Homo sapiens: one gene and its partner. The protein of the gene in region 1 purifies or fractionates together with the protein of each later gene. This does not show direct contact. Each region holds a gene or a part of one and is shown in the gene's direction. Other genes may lie near its edges.

The links.
Region 2: the proteins of LYPLAL1 (region 1) and NIT2 fractionate together in Homo sapiens (co-fractionation; one large-scale study listed by BioGRID). This does not show direct contact.

Annotation. Positions count from the first base shown.
Region 1 is NC_000001.11:219,179,925-219,183,942, forward strand, and holds part of LYPLAL1 (lysophospholipase-like protein 1), read left to right. Parts: intron 1-4,018.
Region 2 is NC_000003.12:100,354,953-100,358,970, forward strand, and holds part of NIT2 (omega-amidase NIT2), read left to right. Parts: intron 1-224; coding exon 225-316; 3' UTR 317-4,018. UniProt on the Homo sapiens protein: Has omega-amidase activity. The role of omega-amidase is to remove potentially toxic intermediates by converting 2-oxoglutaramate and 2-oxosuccinamate to biologically useful 2-oxoglutarate and oxaloacetate, respectively.

The DNA of each region.
Region 1 (4,018 bases):
ATGTGTGGAGCTACGCCCCAATCTGATTTTTCTCATAATCTGTTCTTGATTTTTTTTTGTTTCTTTTTCTTCTTCTTTTTTTATTTTTTCCAGACAGAGTCTCACTCTGTTGCCTAGGCTGGAGTGCAGTGGTGCAGTCTTGGCCCACAGCAGCCTTTGCCTCCCAAGTTCAAAGGATTCTCCTGCCTCAGCCTCCTGCCTAGCTGAGAATACAGGCATGTGACACCACGCCCAGCTAATTTTAAAGACAAGGTTTTGCCATGTTGGCTAGGCTGGTCTGGAACTGTTGACCTGAGGTGATCCACTCACCGCGGCCTCCCAAAAGTGCTGGAATTACAGGCATGAGGCACTGCACCTGGCCTGTTCTTGATTTTTTTCTTATCAGGCATACTATGCAAATGCCTTGCTTTATATTTTCATTAACTTAGTATTAAGGAGAAATAAAACCAGAACTTCAAGGACGTTTTTATATGTACTAATAAGAATTTACTTACTTTAATTGATAGAATTGAAAAAGGGAGAACAAAATGATAATGTAAGACTGAAGACTCAAAGGAGTTATTATTTAAATGTAATTTTAATAGAGTTTAAAAGTTTGGTAATCTAGTTAAAAGACCCAATCACCAGTGGTTATTTTTGTGCTATAAATTGCATGTCTTTGAAAATGTCAAAAAAGCTTCTTGTTACTGATTTTTAGGATAGTTGAAGTTGGAAGGAAGAAACATAGTGGTATTTCTGCAGGGATGAAAGATAAGTTCATTTCTACCTAAATATAAATACAATTGTCTGATTAATCATAAGACCACTGAAAACCTTATTCTAGGAATTAATATTTTTTATCTTAAGAATTTCATGTCATTACCAATTGTGATAGGAATTCTAGGCAGTATTTCTCAAACTTTAGGCCAGAGTTATTTCAGAAAATCCAAAAATCTCCATGTGCACTAAGCATTATTTGTGGGTGCTGTTGTGATTTAGTAAAATATGAAATCATTGGACCAGCTTCATGGTAACTTTTTGTTACACAGTTTTATAACCAATAGCTATTTGAACAGATCATCGAACGTTTTAGACCATACTCACCAATAGAAATGTAATATGAGCTACATATAAATTTAAATGTTCTTGATACCACATTATAAAAAGGAAGAAATACGTAAGATTGATTTTAATAATATATTTTATTTAACCCAGTATATTCAAAATATTCAACATGTAATCGGTATAAAATTATTAAAGTGATATTTTATATTTTTTACACTAAATTTTTGAAAATTGGCATGTTTTACATGTACGACACATCTTACTTCTGATGCTAAATAATTACACTGAAATTAAATAGTAGTAAAAATTAGGTTCCTCAAGTTGCCCTGGCTACATTTACGTGCTTCATAACCTTATGTGGTTAGGGGCTGCCATTTTCTACAGCTTAGTTTTAGAACTTAAAGAGGAGTTCCCATATACAGTAGATTGGGAGCCACTGTTCTAGATCAAGTCATCATTTTTACTTATTGGTTTGCTCAAGTTTTCACTTATTAGTAGCAAAACATAGAAGATTTCCAACACATTACTTTAAATATTAAATTATTTAATTGCAATAGAAAATGAAACTGGCATAAACAAATTTGAGAACAAACATAGTTGACTCTTAATAAGCATAAAAAGCATAAGGCTCAGTTTGTGGGAGCAAAAGTGTGAGGGTGTGCAAGAATGAAGCCTCTTGATCTGGACCATTTGGTCTTCCATGGGCGTTAGATATAGGAATACATGGCTTTGGTTAATACTATGAGGCAATTCAGTGGAGGTCAGTTAAGAGAGATGATATCATACTTAGTATATTATAATTAGCTGATTTTTTTCCTACCTTATGCTGGACTAATTTTCTAGAGCAGTTTATATGATACTTACTTCTGTATCCCTACAGACACTGAGGGATACTGTATCTCTAAGCACTTAGCATAGAACCTGACAAATAGATGTTTAGTGAAGATTGAATAAATATCTTGCAGTATTTGCTTGTTGTTGTTATTTAAAATAGTGTAATAGGAATGAGTAATTGTGGGTATTTATATATAATACTAATATTTTAATTGTGTAATAGTTTATGCCTATGTGAGGTTTTAAAAAGTGTATTTTGTTGTGGTAAATAACCTAAGAATTGTTGTTCATAAGGGGTTGCAATTACTTGTCCTAAGACTTGACCCTGCAATAGATTGAGTGAGCACCAGATTATGGGCCAGTTTTAACTAATGAGTCTCAAATTGAGGAGCACTGCGGTATCATTAAGCCTGTAGCTTTTAACTGGTTTCCAGACTTCAGAATGCTGTTTGATAGTATTTTATTAGAATGCTCTGGCATTCATGGTGTACTTTGCTGTTTTAAGACTTCTGACTGGTGTTCCTAACACATTACCCTGTTTAGGCAAGCAGTTTGGGCATAGATTTATTGTCGTTGCTTTTGTAGCATAATATGGCTTCATTTGCGGTTTTAAGGATAGTTGCTACCTTCCATCTATTATGGCAATGTTTCTTGTGCTGCTAATAAGAGAGATTCTGGTGTCATCTACCTTGCTTGCTACCTTTCCGGTGACGTCAAAAGGAGGCATGTGATAGATACGTGCCTTCCTTAACTCTCACTCTTTTTAATGTGATTGGTACAGGATAAAAATGAATTTTAATAACCTTTTTAAAAATTTATCAAGGTTTCATGCTTTAACATGTTGCTACATACTTTCTGATATTGTCCACATTTCTGGTATTTATTCTCTCTCCTGATTTTTTTCTTTCACCACTTGTAAACCCATAAGTTTTTCTGTACTATGGATATTTCATTGACTATGTTATTCCTATAAGGTATATTGAAGATATCACTTGGCTTGTAAAATCATTCCATTGATGGCATGTAAATGATATTCAGGGTTTACCTGCCTGTTAGTTGGCCAGTTTTGTCCTAGAATGTATCTAATCTCTTGTTACATGGAAGTGATGCTTACTATTATGTGGCTTTACCCAAGCCAGTATTTATAGAAATGAGTGAAAATGAAATGTATAAAAGCAGGTTAAGCTTTATTAACTTTGGTACACTATGCCAAGCATATTTCCAGAGAGGCTGTAACAATTGACAGCCTCACCAGCAGTATTCAAGATTCCCATTTGTCTCACATCCTCCTGAACACTTTCCATTGTCTTTTTAATTTTAGCCAAACCAGTAGATGTGTAATGGTATCCTATTGTGATTTTTATTAATATTTCTTTAATACTAATGATGTTGCACACTGTTTTATGTGCTTATTGAGCATTTAAATATCCTCAAAAGAAATGCCCACTCAGATTATTTGCCCATTCTTTTATTTGGTCATCTTTTTCTATTGATTTGTTGGAGTTCTGTAGTTTTTTGGATACAGTTTATTATTGTTGTTGGATATATGAATACAAATACCTTCTCTTTGTGGTTTGCATTTTCACATTCTTAATGACATCTTGTGGACATAAGTTCTAACATGTTTCTTTAAAATTTACAGTGAAATACAGAAATTGTATGTGCATAGTTAATTTTGATAAATTATAGTACAGAGAATTTTGGTAAAATTATGCACCTATTTACCTCAATTAAGTTGGAGAATATTCTCATCACCCCAGAAAGTTTCCTTGTGCTTCTTTCAAGTCAACTCCCATCTCATGTATTATTGTTTGCATATCTATTACTGTAGCATAGTTTGGCTTGTTCTTGAATTTCAGTTAAATTGAGTCACTTAATGAGTGACTTAATGGAATCTTGTGTCTGGCTTCTTTTATTCAAATTGGTATTTTTGGGATTCATCTATATGTGTGTATCAATAGTTCAATTTTTAAAATTCTAAGTAGGTATTATATAAATATAACACAGTTTGTTTATTTATCTACTGTTGTTGCACGTTTGGATCATTTCCAGTTTTGAGATCTAATGAATAATGCTACCATAAATATTCTTGTTACACGTCTTTTTGTGAGCATAATTTGAATTCTTATCTAGACTCTAT
Region 2 (4,018 bases), on another chromosome or scaffold:
GATATTCTAGGGTCTGGTTCTCTGGCCAATCCCTGGGGAGTGTATCAGCTTGAATTTTCTTGGTTTGGTTTGAAATGATGCCAGGCCATCTGTGCACCTAGATAAGACCTATGTTACTAAGTTACTTACTAAGACTCTGGTGGTTTATACAGTCAGGGGAAGAAATCCCCTTGGTTAGTGAGGAGTTGCAAATTATTAATAGTGCACTTTCCTGTTTTTTGCAGACCTGAAGAAGCTGGCTGAAATACGCCAGCAAATCCCCGTTTTTAGACAGAAGCGATCAGACCTCTATGCTGTGGAGATGAAAAAGCCCTAAAGTTTATGTTTCTAATGTGTCACAGAATAGGACGATATGATTCTACAACATAATCAACTCCCTATTAAATTCTTTAATGAAGATTTTTTTTTTAATTCGGCCTTGTCCTTCCTAGGTTCTCTATTGAGATGAGAAAGCCTCATTATGCTGACATTTTCCACGCCACATTAAATAGTTAAAAAGGATGCAGCCTGGAGCCAGAGAGCAGAAAGCTGGGCTGGTTCTGAAGCTTCTTCCATACTTAAGTTGCCTCCAAGCAGTTTGTGAAAGTATCAGATCTTGGTATCCTGGTGATTGATTCACCTAATATAAATATATTTGTGTCATGAACCTCTTATCCCGTTGCTGGAGTTGTAATCTCCATCATCTAGAAAACGTGGTCTGGTGCTATTCTTTTCCAAGCAGTACCTTGAAGTTCCATTTTTGGTTCATGAGTAGCTATAGAACGCAAGGTGATACATCTTTGGTGTTTGCCAGAGAAGTTGGCAGCCCCACCCCTCCTACCAGCCTTTGCACTCTTCAAATTTAAAAAGGAGCTACTTATCAACCCCAGGCCCTTCTGGTCTTAGAGGAAGGACTGGGCCAACAAAGAGCACCATGGGAGAATGGCAGTGGTGGCATTTAGTGAAGACAATTTAGTATGAATGTCTGCAAAAGATTTTTTTGATAGCGTTGAGTGTCTGAAAGTCCCATTATTTTTCTTTTTTCTTTTTCCCCAGTAACACTTTCTAGCTCCACGGATAAGGAATCACTGAACCTAGTAGTTCTTAGACAGCTTGGTTTGAGAATCCTTTTGCGGTTAAAAATTAGGGACTGAGCCAGGCGCAGTAGCATGCGCCTGTAGTCCTAGCCACATTGGAGGCTGAGGTAGGAGGATCCCTTGAGTCCACAAGTTTGAGTTCAGCCAGAGACCCTATCTCACTATATATATGTATCTCAAAGACTTCAATGGGTTTTTGCTTACATGGGCCAGTAATTGTTGAACAACCAGCTATTTGAGAAAAAGCCCTGATTTTGCTGCTTTTCATGGTGTAAATACTTAACCATGGCTGAGTTTGAGCTATCTGCATGACACCTCTAAACACAGAGTTGGGAATAGATGTGCACAATCAGCTCTGGGGAGCTGGTGCAATCCTGCCCTAGCACACCACTGGTTTAAGATAGATATATCATATAGATATTTACCATTTACCATATTGGAAAGTAAAATGGAGAAAAATTTAAAACACAAGATACATGAGCACACATTCCATTAGCTATTAAGGTGATGGACACGGTGTCCAAATGACACGGTGTCATTTAACTTCTGGAAAACAACACTGTGTACTGAGAACAAGAGAAAGACAAATGACTTTTTTAAATTAAGTTTTTAATTTACAATTGATGCATAATTTTACTTTAAAAAAATAAGTGTGCAATTTGGTAAACTTTGACATATACAGCTATAAACCACTCCAATCAAGATAACATATTTACCACCCCCAACAGTTTCCATGTGCTGTATTATAATCCCTCTGGCTAGTCCTTTGTCAATCACTGATAAATTTTATTACTATAGATTAGCTTGCATTTTCTAAAATTATATAAAAATGAAATCATGCCATTAGTGCTTTTTCTGTATGTCTTCTTTCACTCAAAATCACTTGGAACTCAAAATTACTTCTTTCACTCAAAATCACTCAAAATTACATACTCTGTATGTCTTCTTTCACTCAAAATTACTTCTTTCATTTTTAGACGGAAGCATTTAGACCTCAAAATTACTTGGAGATTCATCTGGTATGTGCATTAATAATTCATAATTCATTCCTTTTTTATTGCTGAGTAGTATACAATTTGTTTATCCATTTATCTGCTGTTGGAGATTTGGGCTATTTCCAGATTTTGGCTGTTGCAAAAAAGCAACCTCACAGATCCTTTTAAAGGATGTCAGGTGCTTTCAGGTAACCCTAGACTATAGTACCACTGCTCTCTATCCTAGCAGGCACACTGAAAGTTAAACCTTGTAATAGTGCGAAATCATTTTCTTTTTTAAAAATATATTTTCTTACTTTTATATATTTTACTCAATCTCATGACAGATTACATTTTCTTTTTTAAATAGAAAGTCTTACTGTAAAGCCCACATCTGTATAAAAAAATGAAAGAATGATCTGGTTGATGTGGATGTGTGGAACCTAGGAACCTTCTCTTGGATTTTCTCTTATTCCCCAAAAAACTTCATTTCCTCTAAAGAGCTGCTCAGAAGTTTGAAAACCAGTGGACAAGCCATCCTAGCTGTCTTGATGCTAGAGAAGCAAAGACGCTTTACAGAGATGTAGCATTCCTGTAACAGGTAAGGCAGGTGGATGCTAAACTTTTTACATTTCTTTTTTTTTTTTTTTTTTTTTTGAGACAGAGTCACGCTGTCGCCCAAGCTGGAGTGCAGTGGCATGATCTTGGTTCACTGCATCCTCTACCTCCTTGGTTGAAGCAATTCTCAGGCCTCAGCCTCCTAAAAGTAGCTGAGACTACAGGCACGTGCCACCATGCCTGGCTAATTTTTGTGTTTTTAGTAGAGATGGGGTTTCACCATCTTGGCCAGGCTGGTCTTGAACTCCTGACCTCAAGTGATCCACCTGCCTTAGCCTCCCAAAATGCTAGGATTAGAGGCGTGAGCCACCGCGCCCGGCCTAATTTTTGTATTTTTAGTAGAAATGGGGTTTCACCATGTTGGCCAGTCTGATCTCGAACTCCTGGCCTCAAGTGATCCACCAGCCTTGGCCTCCCCAAAGTGTTGGGATTACAGACGTGAGCCACGGCACCCAGCCTTTTGTTTGTTTTTGTTTTTATGTATTTCATTAAATGAATTGTCCTTTTAGTGGTATATCAGGAGATCTTGCCTTCTGGTACTCTTGAAAAATATGAAAAGAAACAACTGAAGTAGGCATCTCCTATAATTAGTATGTAGCATTTTATTCTCAGAAAATGTGTGGTAACCTGGCCCTGGATTTTACCTTTTTGCAAAGTGATATCCGAATAAAATGAACACTAGATTCCCACTTGGAGTGGAAGAACATTGCAGTTGAGGCCTTGGGTAAGTTTTAACTGCCATACCCCTGTACTCCCCGACTTTCTAATGAATTAGACAATGATGTTTTATTTTTGTTTTTTGTTTTTGCATAATACTTTGAAGTCTGCTATCACAAGTTGTGAACCTCTATCTCTTGCAGTTTAGGTAAGGCAACACATTTAATGAATTCACATTTAAGTGAATTCCTCACAGGGATGACGACCTCTGTTGAAATAGGTCAGGATGTGCAGTTTGTGGTGAAAGTTCTACTTGACTTTGACCTAGCTGTTTGAAGCTGAGAGCTAACAGATAATAAGTGTTGCACTGGTTGCAAATGAATAAATAAGTAACATTATGGGGTTTTAAATGACCAAGGAGTAGATTGTGACATCGACTGGGTATTTAGGGAAGGACTCCTTCCTGATACCAAAAGTTAGGTCTGTGCAAAGTACACCAAGTGGAAAAAAGTTTAGACAAGAGTTTAGGTTTCAAGATAAATGTTCTGCTCTATTGGCACTGGTTTTAAGTCTTTTGTGCTACTTTTTAGGCATTGCTGTGTAAGTTTTGGTGGTGCGTGGGTACAATGAAGCCAGGAGGGATAGAAAGGGAAATGATGTGTGTGCTGCAGGCTAAACAGGGGCTCTTCCTTA